4 linked regions of the Homo sapiens genome follow. The protein of the gene in region 1 interacts with the protein of each later gene in a pairwise test. Each region holds a gene or a part of one and is shown in the gene's direction. Other genes may lie near its edges.

Region 1 (3,500 bases):
TTGATTTAAGCTGTATTAGCGTTTCCTGTTGTGTCCAGCAGTTTACAACATGTATAATTACAAGTACAAATGTACAGAACTCTCTAGCAGACTATTTTTTCCTACCACTTATGTCTAAAGTATAATAAATTGTGCCAATTTGGGGTCCTGTATTTTGATTTAGCATGACCTTTGGTTTCCAATTAAAGAGATTTTTCTTCCCTCTTTTTCTTCCATTTACCTAGCATTAGAATATGAAGAAATATATCTAATGTTCCTATAATTTTGGGATTATTTTATCAATGTAATTAAATAAACTTCAGTGGACCCGCTTTGGAGAGTATGGATAACATCATTCAGAAACTTTTATTTTTATATCTCTTTTTTGGTGGGCATGGATTCTTTTGTAAGGGAGATACTGAGGCCGGCCACCTATGTGATATTTTGCTCAACTTGTGTGAAATCTGGTGCACTTTGGTCAACTGGAAGCACAAAGTGTTCTAAGATGAAAAAAATTCTTCATTCCCAGATGTTCCTGCATCGGAAAGTGGCTGTGAGGTCTCAGAGTACAGCGTGGAGATGACGGAGCCCGAAGACGTAGCCTCGGAAGTGTACCATGGCCCAGAGCTGGAGTGCACCGTCGGCAACCTGCTTCCTGGAACCGTGTATCGCTTCCGGGTGAGGGCTCTGAATGATGGAGGGGTGAGTATAAGCCCATACACCATAACCAGAATCAGAATGCATAATCAGAACCCAAAGTGCTAGCACTTCTGTCTCTAGCCTCCTGAAATTTTTGACAGTCTTGATGCAACCTTGACAACCATTAATGCAGTGTCTGTAAATCTTAATTCTGAGTTGATATTGTTGTGATTTCATATAGACCCAGCATTAGAAGTTTTCTGTTTCTTTTGTCCTCATATCATTCTATGAAGACAGCACTCAAGGTTAATAAGGATATCACCCTGTAGATATTTTCGACAGTTTTTGGAAAATTTCCTATTCTATTGACTTTATCAGTTCAGGGAAATTAGGATTAGATAATAGTTCTAATAAAAGTTTTATACTGTCTTGTCTAAATGAACCAGCAACATCTTAGGTCAGTTTTTACAACTAGAGAAGGGTAGTGGCCAGGGACACCAGCTTGTTTTTGTTTTGTTTCACGTGAAAACTACAGGACTCTCTCCTTCTATTGCTCCATTTGGAGTTGTCAAGTTGAGCTATCAAAAATTGAGAATATATATGTCTATGTTATATCCATAAAGGTTGTTGTCCTTTTTTTCTTTGAAATTGCCAAATGATGTGGATTTAGGGGGAGATGAATAATGAGCAGTGGGAGTCCCAGTAACTGTGAGGCTTTTGGGTGGGCTCAGAGATTGATGAAGCATAAAAGGGCAGAAGCGTGTGGGTAAAGCCAGCTAAATGCCCCGTCCAAAGTGCCAGTGGTTTGTGTAGATGGGCTCCATGCAAATAAATAGAATTAATTAATTGATGATTTTTTAAAAAAATAAGACAGCCCAACTTGCAGTGACTTTTTGTTTTAAGTGAAAGCAAGTTTATTAAGAAAGTAAAGGAATAAAAGAAGGGCTATTCCTTAGGCAGAGTGCCCAAAACTGGATTTCTCCTAATTCTCCAATAGAAAAGAATTTCAGACACAACAATGATACTTAAGTGAAAACAAAAAAGTCTGAACATTAACGCCTATGTACCTGAACTTATAATCATGTAAGCGAAAAGAAGATGGATAGTGATGAGCACACTGTTGTGTCTACCCCATTCTCTCATCAACTTTTCAGTTACTATCTGCCACAACAAAGATAAATGTGCAACTGGGCTGGTGTGAGCTGTACTTTTCTCAGCCCTTTCACTGATTTATCCTATAAAGAAACTATCTTCAGCTTGGGTTTATTCCTGTTGTATTAGAAATTAACCATATATATCGCTGTAGTCACCTTCTGAGGTCCATTTCAGAGAGCTTCCCCAACTCCCCAGCATCTTTGCATGTTATGTTGAGAGGTGGTTTTTTGTTTCCCCCCTCCCCGCCGTCTTTTTTCTCTCATTTTGACAAGGACAGTCATATATTTTGTTAGCCTGGCAAGTTTTTACTCTGCTCCAAACCTTTGAAGTATCAAATATGCCACCATTAAAATGGGTGGTTCAGGTGGCTGTGACTCTCTCAAAGTGTGGTAAGTCTCTAGCAATTCCTGGCTCTGAGCAGTGTGGTCACTGATGGTAACATCAGGATTGCCGTGGATACCCTTGAATAGGTGAGGTGATGGGAACACACTGAGAAAACATTACAGAAGCATTTATTTTCAAAATGGAAAATACCGGTAACTAGAAGAAATACCTAGAATTTGATCACCAACAATTCCAAGTATATTTTTATTCATTAAAAATTAAACTGCAGTGGGCATCTGACTTAGTTTTCTTGGATGTCCTCTGAGAAATATGAAAGCAGATTGCCCTGTTTTGTCAAAAATCAGCATATTTTTATTTCATGTCCCAAGAAAGGGAAAATATTTTGTCAACCAACTAATTATTTTACAATTAAAAAAATGACAGACATCTACTACTCAGGGACTGTATATAGGAGAAAAACTTACACACATTGAATTGAAAGTGAAAATCATTGGGTAATATTTGTTAATTAGTTGTGTTGATGATGATGTTAGCCTAGCTTTTATTTGGTTATAAGCTTTTGTATGCACACACATTCACAAACACATACACGCATATATACATACGTGTGTGTGCGTGTGTTTTCTTTCAGTATGGTCCCTATTCTGATGTCTCAGAAATTACCACTGCTGCAGGGCCTCCTGGACAATGCAAAGCACCTTGTATTTCTTGTACACCTGATGGATGTGTCTTAGTGGGTTGGGAGGTAAGTCAGGCATATTCTGCATCAACTTCTGTTTCTTCTACTTTACTCCCAAATACAAATACCAATTATAAGGAAGCTGCAAATCCAAAATGCACATATAGATGATTTTTTTTTTTTTTTTGCTCTGTGTACTATAGTAATCACCCTTGGCACTTGCCACTTGCTTATATTATTTAGGGTTGTGGAAGTTTTACTGTAGTCAAAACTGAGAGGAAATGGTTTCTCATGCCTTTCTTTTTGTAAAAAATTTTATTTTATTTTACTTATTTTATTTTTTTGTGTGACAGAGTTTCAATCTTGTCACCCAGGCTGGAGGGCAGTGGCACAATCTCGGCTCACTGCAACCTCTGCCTCCCTGGTTCAAGTGATTCTCCTGCCTCAGCCTCCTGAGTAGCTGGGATTACAGGTGCCCACCACCATGCCTGGCTAGTTTTTGTACTTTTAGTAGAGATAGGGTTTCACTGTGTTGGCCAGGCTGGTCTCGAACTCCTTATCTTAGGCAATCCACCCACCTCAGCCTCCCAAAGTGCTGGGATTACAGGCATGAGCCGCCGCACCTGGCCCTATTTTATTTTTAAATTTCTAAATCTCAAAAAAAATTTTGTGGGTACATAGTAGGTATATATATTTGTGATCG
Region 2 (3,500 bases), on another chromosome or scaffold:
TTTGACCAGTGTGTTCACAAGGTAACTTTCTGGTGAAGATCTACACTATCTTCCACTGTTACCACTTGCCACTATTGAGGGATTTGTTCCTCACAAGGATTTGGGAATGCTTATAGTATAGGTAAAGATAGTGTCTTTAGAGAGAACTATTTATATGTTCATATGGGTGCACATTTATATGTGACATCTTGAAGTTCAGCGGATCCATGGAAGATATATTTTCTAAAGGGCTTCATTATCTAACAGGAATATTCTCAGATTATCTCTTTACTGTATTAAATTATTTCATTGGTGGTTGTGGATGTAAGTCAATAGTGGGAAATGATGAACGGATTTGTATTGACTGTGGCAGCTATGCAGTGGGTGGATGAAAAGAAGCACCAAGAAAGGGTATCCTTGATATATAACTAAGCTTGATTTATGAAGTAAAATTGGGAAAGACCTTTAGAAAATTCCCATTTGGGAGACAAGATAGTTTGGAGGAATGAACAAGGATCTTTGAGAGGAACTTGAGTAAAGTTAAGTTGGGTGATCTTGGATGAGGGAACTTTCCTCATAAACTGTAGTTTCTTTCTGAGTAGACTTGGAATTGATTAGTTGGATGGTGATTATAAGAATGATATGTATATTATATGTAACAGTAAAATGCCTTCTGCATTATTATTCTTTCTCCCATATATACTGTAAATCATTGTTTTGTGTTCCACCAACAGATACTTATTGAACCTCTATTTTGTCTAAATTACTGTTGTGAACTGCTTCACAAAATCAACAATTACAGCAGGGTTGAATGAATGTATGTGTTGGGGCTACAAAGACATCGAGCATCAATCCTTGGGCTCAGTATATTCCTAATCTAGTTGGGGAGATAACCCATACACATACGATGGCAATTAACAAAACAAAGCCATGGTTAAGTGTGGGTGAATGGTAGATAAATGCTGTAGACACTGTGATGGCATCTCTGGATGTGGTGGTAAATGTGTTCCTGTGATAGGACCCGGCAGATGGGGTTGCTCTTTTAAAAACCCTATGAAGTGTTGATATACAATGTTAAGTGCAATTGTATATCGAGTGCCTTCTGAAGATCAAGCATTAAGCTAGATGCTTTATATTTATTTATTCATCCAAAAAATACTTTGAGTGCTTTCTGTATGCCCAGGTACTGTTCTAGGCACTGACTATTACCTCTCATACTTTCACTAACCTTGAGCACTGGGTATTATTTTTTGTCTTTTAGAGCAAACTGGTGCTCAGAGTTACTTAGTAACTTGTTCATATCATGCAGTTTGAAAGGGGTGGAATCAGGGAAAATGATACTGGCATATGATTGATGTGTCTTTAGGTTTTTGATTTTCAAAATAGTAACACATAGAATATTTTAAAAACAACACATTTCCAGATTAAGGTATGTGCTCTTTTACATTGGTTTACTAAGATGAGCAATAATGAACAGGTATAAGAAAAATAGATGGGAAGAAAAACTGGCTTTACTTTCTTCTTTTTTTTTTCTTTTTAAAACCAAGAATTGAGAAAAGACCAATTATTGAATTATTCTGAAAAGAACACCTTGGTCTAGCCCATGGCCTTGAAATGATCACAAACTGTTGATAAAACATTACTCAGAATAGGCTTGGGAATCACTGGGCTTACTTATATAAAGATTTCATTTGTTCTCTATAGGAAGAGACCCAATAAGGTAGTAGGACTAGTTATGAAAAATATATATATAAAGCATCAATCAATGAAAGAATGGGACCTGCATCTACCAAGGCAGGCTCAGTAGGTTATGAAATTTACTCTAAAGCCAGGATTGTAAAAGGAAAGAAGAAAATTAAGAGAGACAATGGTGGGGAGAAAATGGAGGGGTGGTGTGGTAGAAATGTGTCCTAGAATCAAAGTAAAAGATGAAAACAGGGAATATGACTAAGATCCTGAGCAAGAGTGCTATAATTACTGGTGTTATACACTGTAACCAAAAGAGTATGTCCCATGTTTGCAAAATGAGGTGAAGAGTCTATTTTGACTCATCGGGTGGTTTTGTATTGCAATGGGAATTATATCTCTCTGTTATATGAGTTACGGTGGATCAGGCAGTTCTTCAGTTTGACTTAGAAGGATGCCATTGTAGGCATTGATTACAAGGTAATGGGCTGTTTCTCCTTTGTTGAAGTTCTATTTAAAACATTTTTTGAGCGTATACTATGTACCAGACCTTTTAAAGGCTGGACCATAGCTTTATATTACATAAATTTTGTGGAATTAAGCTAATTTAGTTACTAGAACATTTTGGGTATGATTGCTTAGGTACCAAAATCAGTTGATTATTTTTCTCCATCCATTACACTGTTGAACCCTGAATAGTGAATTGAAATTCCTAGGTGGTCAATCTGGTCTGGTTGTTAAATGATCTTAGTAATTCACCGTATTGGTTTGTGGTCTAATTGGGTGGACTTGAGGCTTAGCTGTTCAGTCTATTGATAAGGAGGTTGGCTACAAATGGTTATCAAGATAAGCCTGTAGACTTCTGTGAAAGAAAAATCTAGCCAAATCTAATTCATTACATGCAAAAGAGAAATCAAGTGTAAATCTTAGCTTTATGTTCTATAAAAATATGAAGCAAAATAAGAAAAAAGATACTACTTTTAGCATTAAAAATTATGAAGTAAAATAAAAAAGAACAAGAGAGTACTTTTAGTTTTTCTTTTAAAATTTTAGTTCATGCATATTTAGCATATGCATAGAAATATCTGTGTCAGGTTCTTGTTCTTTTTATGGCCCTTGAATCCCTCTAATGGGTGTAAAATTTCTATTATTACCCTTCTAGTATAGTATGTTGATGATATGCTAGCACTTTAAAAAATATGTCTGACTCAAATTGAGGTATAGTCTGCACGTTGAACATGAATTTAAAATAAAAGCATTTAATGAGAGTCTATTAAATATGCCATAGGCCCATTAATGTCAGTTTGTGATTTCACTTTCTGTGTACCTTTTTTTTTTTTTTTCTTGAAAGGCATTTTTCATTTTCTGTTCCTTCTTTAGAGGAAGTAAGTAGGTTAGGCCACAGAATCTCAAATAATTCATCCTTCTTACAGTAACACAGAAGGGCAGGAAGTTGAGATTTTGTAAAGGTTACCTTTGGTGACTACCCTTTCTTTGCACATGATCTCCATGGCAGACAAGGTAGCAAATCAGAGAGACCATTGCAACATTATAAATAGGATCATTCACATTAAAATATGACTAGCTGATAAAGGGACAGTGTTTTTGAGAAAATATCAATAAGATGGAACCGCTGTAATGACTGATTTCATGTTTAAAGGCAGCATGGATTAGTTCACACTCAGGTGTCTCCTCTGCAGGGATGGATGAGAACAGAAGACCCAACTTCTCAAGGATTTGTTCTTGATGCTGCTAAGATTTCAGTTCTCACATTGAAATAATGATCTAGAGTTTTTCCTGCCTAAAATCTATGAACTTAGGTCCTTAGGACAGAT
Region 3 (3,500 bases), on another chromosome or scaffold:
CACTAAAATCTGACATACTCAAATCCTACAGTTGATGTATAGGAAAAGACAGCCCTCAGTATATGTGGTATTACATCCTGAGAATACAGTATTTTTTGTTCGGTTGAAAAAAACCTGCATATAGGTGAACTTGTGCATTTCAAACCTGCTTTGTTTAAGGGTCAACTGTATTTACTATCTGGTCGTTTAGAAAAATGAAAAACAGCCTGGGCAACATGGTGAAACCCTGTCTCTACAGAAAAATACAAAAATTAGCTGGGCATGGTGGCACACACGTGGTGGTAGTCCCAGCTACTCTAGGAGGCTGAGGTGGGAGGACTGCTTGAGCCTAGGAGGTCAAGGCTGCAGTGAGCTGTAATCACACTGCTGCATTCCAGCCTGGGCGACAGAGCGAGACCCTGTCTCCTCTCCAAACAAACAAACAAAATGCCAACCCCTGCTCCAGGCTTCAACAACTGGTGGCTCTTTAATGGCTTGAGATACTCTCTAGTGGCCATTTCATTCTGAGCCTGTCTAGACCCTGCTGGGTCCATAGGTTCCTTGTGATTTGTGGTGTTGTGGACTTTTGTTGTCATCTCCCTCATCAGCCTAAAAGTGCCTGTGTCCAATAATGAACACTCTGCCCTCAGCAGTGACTAACCCCTGACCTCTTTTGAACCACAATTAGGCCCCTTAGCCTCTCCCTCCCTCCAAACCCCAGGGTTCTTGGGTTTTCTGGAAGTGGGTTGAGCTGTGACCCTATGTCCCTTCTTTTAGGAGACCATCTAGCTGGCTGCCCCCGACAGTGAGTGTGTTGGCTCTTGTGAAGCGGGGGGCACCTCCCGAGATGCCTTCTCCTCAGGAGCTTGAGGCCTCAGCACCCAGGATGGTGCAAACCCATAGGTAAGGAGGATTGGGGAGAATGCACTAGTGTGTAACCATGTATGCTATCACAGCATGGATGGGAGGTAGTGTAAAAAACCCTGGGCTTTAAAATAAGACCGTGCTTAGTGTGCATTGCAGCTTTTCTATTTATTATCGATGTGTCACTCATTTGAGCCTTGGATTTTTTTTTTTTTTTAAGAGACAAGAGTCTTGCTCTGTCGCTCAGGCTGGAGTGCAGGGGCACAATCTCGGCTCACTGCAACCTCCCCTTCCTGGGTTCTCCTGTCTCAGCCTACTGAGTAGCTGGGACTACAGGTGCCCACCACCATGCCCGTTTAAGTTTTGGAATTTTTTTTTTTTTGAGATGGAGTCTAGCTCTGTCGCCAAGCTGAAGTACAGTGGCATGATCTCGGCTCACTGCAATCTCCGCCTCCCAGGTTCAAGCAATTCTCCTGCTAAGCCTTCTGAGTAGCTGGGATTACAGGCACATGCCGCCACGCCCAGCTAATTTTTGTATTTTTAGTAGAGACCGGGGTTTCACCATGTTCGCCGGGATGGTCTTGATCTCCTGACCTCGTGATCCGCCCGCCTTGGCCTCCCAAAGTGCTGGAATTATAGGCGTGAGCCACTGTGCCCAGCCAATTTTTGTATTTTTAGTAGAAACGGGGTTTCACCGTGTTGCCCAGGCTGGTCTAGAACTCCTGACCTCAGGTGATCCACCCACCTCAGCCTCCCAAAGTATTGGGATTACAGGCATAGCTACTGCACCCGGCCAGGATTCTTTCTATAAAAAGGATATGATGCAATACCTTTTTTATGGTTATAGAGACTAAACATAATTTTTTTTTTGAGACAGAGTCTCACTCTCGCCCAGGCTGGAGTGTAGTGGCATGATTTCGGCTCACTGCAACCACGCCTCCTGGGCTCAAGTGATTCTCCTGCCTCAGCCTCCAGAGTAGCTGGGATTACAGGCACCTGCCACCATGCCTGGCTAATTTTTGTAATTTTAGTGGAGATGGGGTTTTGCCATGTTGGCCAGGCTGGTCTTGAACTCCTGGCCTCAAGGAATCTGCCTACCTTGGCCTCCCAAAGTGCTGGGATTACAGGTGGGAGCCACTACACCTGGCTACTAAACTTTTTTTTTTTTTTTTTTGAGACAGTGTCTTGCTCTGTCGCCCAGGCTGGAGTGCAATGGCATGATCTCGGCTCACTGCAACCTCCGCCTCCTGGGTTCAAGTGATTCTCCTGCCTCAGCCTCCTGAGTAGCTGGGACTACAGGCGCCTGCCACCATGCCCAGCTAATTTTTTATATTTTTAATAGAGATGGGGTTTCACCATGTTGGCCAGGATGGTCTCGATCTCTTGACCTTGTGATCCACCCACCTCAGCCTCCCAAAGTGCTGGGATTACAGGCGTGAGCCACCACGCCTGGCCTAAACATTTTATAAAAGCATTTGGCGGCCGGGCGTGGTGGATCACCTGAAGTCAGGAATTCAAGACCAGCCTGGTCAACATGGTGAAACCCCGTCTCTACTAAAAATACAAAAATTAGCCAGGCGTGGTGGTGGTGGGCACTTGTAGTCCCAGCTACTCGGGAGGCTGAGGCAGGAGAATTGCTTGAACCTGGGAGGTGGAGGCTGTTGAGATCACACCACTGCACTCCAGCCTGGACAACAGAGACTGACTCTGTCTCAAGAAAAAAAAAAAAAAAAAAAAAAAGTAGATGGAGTAGTAGGAGATCCAAACACCAAACAGGTTTTGGTGATGGATTGGATGTATGGAGTGAGATGCCCAGGTTTTTACCAGGGGCAAGTGTGGGGAGAAAGTGGTGCTGTTTACCACTATAGGCGACACGAGGAGGAACTGGTTTTGAGGGTGAGTCATTTCATTTGCCTGTGTTGAATTTGAAGCACCATTGAGAAGTGCAAATAGTGTCAAATAAGCAGCTGGAGTGGGTTTGCCACTCAGGAGAAGGCTGGGGCCCCAGATAGAATCACCAAGTTGATGAATGGTTCTCAAGTCCTTCCAGAGCCCAGTCAATGTCCACTGAGCCAAACCAACAAGGGCACTCTAGAGGTGACGCCTGGGGACGGCTGGGCAGCCCCACCTCACCTCATCCCAGTATCTTCCTCTGGCTCCCCTCAGGGCAGTGCGGGCTCTCTGTGATCACACTGCTGCAAGACCTGACCAGTTGAGCTTCCGGCGTGGGGAAGTGCTGCGTGTCATCACCACAGTGGATGAGGACTGGCTCCGCTGTGGGCGGGATGGCATGGAGGGTCTGGTGCCTGTGGGGTATACCTCCCTTGTTCTGTAGCCCTGGGACCCTTTCCTGCGTATGTGTCTCCTTCCTGTCACCTGGGAATGGAATGGCCAGTGAACACCATCCCAGAAGCATTTTCCCTCTGCAAAATGACGTTTCTTCCCACGTCTGTTTCTGCTAATATTTAAAATAAACTTTCCTTCTTCCCTCCTATACCCACCTGTAAGGTGAAATCTGCTCTTCTTCCAAATATATAAAAAAGGAATTGCCCTCCAGGTAATCCCTTTCCTTTTTCCCGTCTATATAAGGGAATGTCTTCCTTCCTATCTATCTGCAAAATGGAAATCTAGACCTCCTTCTTCATCCATAAGTGGAC
Region 4 (3,500 bases), on another chromosome or scaffold:
AAGTAAATTTAAAGTATTAACAAGTAATATTATAATAAAAAAGAAAGAAACTTTCCAGGTTTGAATCTGTCCTTTGTTTTTGTTTTTGTGACTTAAGAAATCTTATTTTATTTTGCCAAGAAACTGATAGCTAAGTTTTAGGCTCAATTTCAGTAGCTTCCTTTGCCTAAGGCTCCTGTCATTGTTAACAGTTCTCCATTTTCTCATTACAACTTCTACACCTTCCCTTTCCCTTGGTAGCGGTGGTAATGGTTGTTTATAACTTTTATTTTAATGGGGTTATGGTTTTACTGTGAGCCATTCCAAATATATCTTAGAAGTAGGTAAAGGTAATATTAAAAAAAAGTTTTTTTTTACAAGAGAGGAAATTTTTAGACTTTGCCGACCCTCCCCCAAAAAAGTAGTTGCCCATAAAAAGTTCTAACCATTAAAAAAAATGAATAATTGGACTCCACTGTAATTAGGAACTTCCTTTCATCAAAAAACATGATTAACAAATAGGCATTCCACAGACTGGGAGAAGATATTTACAATACATATATCTAACTCATATTCAGAATATATCAAGTACTTCTGCAGAGTAAAAGAAAGAATCCAGTTTAAAAGGAAGCAAAGGCCAGGCGTGGTGGCTCATGCCTGTAATCCCAGCACTTTGGGAGGCTGAGGCGAGTGGATCACCTGAGGTCGGGAGTTCAAGACCAGCCTGAGCAACATGGAGAAACCCCTTCTCTACTAAAAATACAAAATTAGCCGGGTGTGGCAGCGCATGCCTGTAATCCCAGCTACTCAGGAGGCAGAGGCAGGAGAATCGCTTGAACCTGGGAGGTGGAAGTTGTGGTGAGCTGAGATTGTACCATTGCACTCCAGCCTGGGCAACAAGAGAGAAACTCCGTCTCAAAAAAATAAAATAAAAGGAGGCAAAAGATTTGAACAGTCACTTCACAAAAGAAGACGTCCAAATTGCCAGTGAGAGTTGGCAAGGATGTGGATAACTTTTTTTTTGAGACAGAGTCTTGCTCTGTCACCCAGGCTGGAGTGCAGTGGTGCGGTCTCGACTCACTGCAACCTCCACCTCTCACGTTCAAGCAACTCTCGTGCATCAACCTTCTGAGTAGCTGGGATTACAGGCATGTGCCACCACACCTGGCTAATTTTTGTATTTTTGGTAGAGACCGGTTTTCACCATGTTGGCCAAGTTGGTCTCAAACTCCTGACCTCAAGTGATCCACCTGCCTCAACCTCCCAAAGTGCTGGGATTATAGCTGTGAGCCACCTTGCCCAGTGGATGTGGATAACTTAATTATTGCTAGTGAGAGTGTAAGTTAATTGAGCCACTGGAAAACTAGCAGTACCTACTAAAGATAAACATGCCCCCCTAACCTATGACCAGGTAAATTCCACTCCATGATATGTACACAACAGAAATGATTGCATATGTTCACCAAAAACATGTTCACAACAACTTTATTCTTACTAGCTTAACCCTGAAAACAACTCATGTCTATCAACAGAAAAAAATGGTGTATTTGTGAAAAGGAATACTACACAGATATAAAAAATTAAATTATAAATGCAATTGGATAATCTAAACAATATTTTGTTGAGTAGAAAAAGACAGACATAAAAGAGAAGACACTATATTCGTTCATATTTTTTAATGAGGGTCAAGAATAGGCAAAACTGAACTATCAAAATAGTGATACCAGTTGTGAAGGGAAGGAAGTATTCACTGGAAAGGGGCACAAGGAAATGTTCTGCATCTTTGATCTGGATAGTGATAACTTGGATGTTTGCATATGTAAAAAATCCATTAAGCTATACACTTAAAATTTATGTACCTTACATAAGTTGTATATCAATGAAATAAGAAATAGTAATAATTTCAAAAGAGTAGCAGTCCAGAGAGAGCATTGCCTGAGGCGGAAAGTTCTATGATCTGAAGGCAATTTAATCTTTCTGTTTCTCTTTTTCAGGTTGGCTCTAATATAGTGGTATTATGCTTAGAGCACATTGGGGAAATAATTAGGCATAAAGGTACCCATCCTTCAGTAGGAAAAGTAACTAACATTAGAACCAGTTCATTATTTCTGGCTAAATAGGTAAAATTTTCACTACTACATCAGTTTTTAAGAGCAGTTATTTAAATGACCCATAGTACCAGCGTATTGTTGAATAAATAGGTGTTGGATTAAAATAAATTTCTCTAAAGTGAATGATCTATATAATAAGCTAAAGAAATAATAGATTGTATGTTTTGGGATCAGAGAATGAAAAAAGGGAGGGAAATGGTATTTTTGATTTTTTGGTTCTCTTGATATTTAAGCATCTTTGCTTATAAACTGTAATTCCCAAACCAGCCCCTCCTTCAAAAAGGCCCAGGAATTGAACAAAGGAGGAAAGGAAAGCTAAGTTAGAAGGTAACTGCATATCATGTTCCTGTTTTCTCTTTCTGTGTCCAAACCACTTCTTTTTAATATTTGCTTCAGTTTTAGTTTTGTTTTATATTTAACAGTCTAGAGTGTGATCTGGTTATGTAATCCGCTAAAATAAAGTAAGTTTAGGTATTCATTTTTGGATTTTACCCATAATTTTACAGATCATTTGTAGTGAAAAAGATTTTAGTGAATCTCTACTTTTACTATAGCATGTGGTTTACCCTATCCTTTTTTTTTAACCTTCTGTATTCTTGATAATTGTAGTTATCTTACTATTCATACTTAAAGGAAGAAATAAAACAGAACCCAGAAAACCACCATGAAAGCCATAGGTACTGAATAACAAAGCTTTTACACATCCCAAGGGGTGGTGTATAGAAAGAATGCCTTGTCGATCCTACATAATGGAATCTCAACATGTCTAATTTTTTTATCATTTCCCAGTTCATTTTATGTAGCCATGTCTAATTTTTTAGTGTACAAGGAGAACATTCCAGATGGTTTATGAGGGGTAGTCACTTGTGGAACACTGGTCCCTTGTTTTGGATATGAATTTTTATCCTTTTGGGGTTCTCATTAACAAATAGTATCATTTTTATATCCTGACAAAGTTGCTGTTTTGTTGTGGTAAGCAGAAAAGGATAGGCATCTTTGCTTTGCCAAAGCAATCTGTATCTTGAAAATTTTGGAAACTACTATTTTACTATTAGTCTAGTACAGTAAATGTTTCCCTTGATCCTTCTTCCTGTTCCTATAACTTTTTTTTTTTTTTTGGTGTGAGAATTTGGTAAAAATCTTTGTACCTTCTACCTTAAAAATGCTCACGTAAACCTAAACTGAAATATCAGAAAGAGTCATGGACTGGAAGTTAAGAACTTCCACACAATAACAAAAATTATGGGCCAGACACAGTGGCTCACACTTGTAATCCTAGAACTTTGGGAGGCCAAGGTGGGAAGATCACTTGAGCCCAAGAGTTCAAGGCTGCAGTGAGTGGTGATGGAGCCATGCACTCAGCCTGGGCGACAGGGTAAGACCCTGTCTCAGAATTAAAAAAAACAACAA

Evidence for each region.
Region 2: the proteins of FNDC3B (region 1) and L3MBTL3 interact in binary tests that used the Homo sapiens proteins (3 or more experiments, as listed by UniProt).
Region 3: the proteins of FNDC3B (region 1) and RUSC1 interact in binary tests that used the Homo sapiens proteins (3 or more experiments, as listed by UniProt).
Region 4: the proteins of FNDC3B (region 1) and TOX4 interact in binary tests that used the Homo sapiens proteins (3 or more experiments, as listed by UniProt).

The regions. Positions count from the first base shown.
Region 1 is NC_000003.12:172,343,578-172,347,077, forward strand, and holds part of FNDC3B (fibronectin type III domain-containing protein 3B), read left to right. Parts: intron 1-508; coding exon 509-681; intron 682-2,749; coding exon 2,750-2,863; intron 2,864-3,500. UniProt on the Homo sapiens protein: May be a positive regulator of adipogenesis.
Region 2 is NC_000006.12:130,025,081-130,028,580, forward strand, and holds part of L3MBTL3 (lethal(3)malignant brain tumor-like protein 3), read left to right. Parts: intron 1-3,500. UniProt on the Homo sapiens protein: Is a negative regulator of Notch target genes expression, required for RBPJ-mediated transcriptional repression. It recruits KDM1A to Notch-responsive elements and promotes KDM1A-mediated H3K4me demethylation.
Region 3 is NC_000001.11:155,327,394-155,330,893, forward strand, and holds part of RUSC1 (AP-4 complex accessory subunit RUSC1), read left to right. Parts: intron 1-756; coding exon 757-882; intron 883-3,009; coding exon 3,010-3,178; 3' UTR 3,179-3,500. UniProt on the Homo sapiens protein: Associates with the adapter-like complex 4 (AP-4) and may therefore play a role in vesicular trafficking of proteins at the trans-Golgi network. Signaling adapter which plays a role in neuronal differentiation.
Region 4 is NC_000014.9:21,480,195-21,483,694, forward strand, and holds part of TOX4 (TOX high mobility group box family member 4), read left to right. Parts: intron 1-3,500. UniProt on the Homo sapiens protein: Transcription factor that modulates cell fate reprogramming from the somatic state to the pluripotent and neuronal fate. In liver, controls the expression of hormone-regulated gluconeogenic genes such as G6PC1 and PCK1.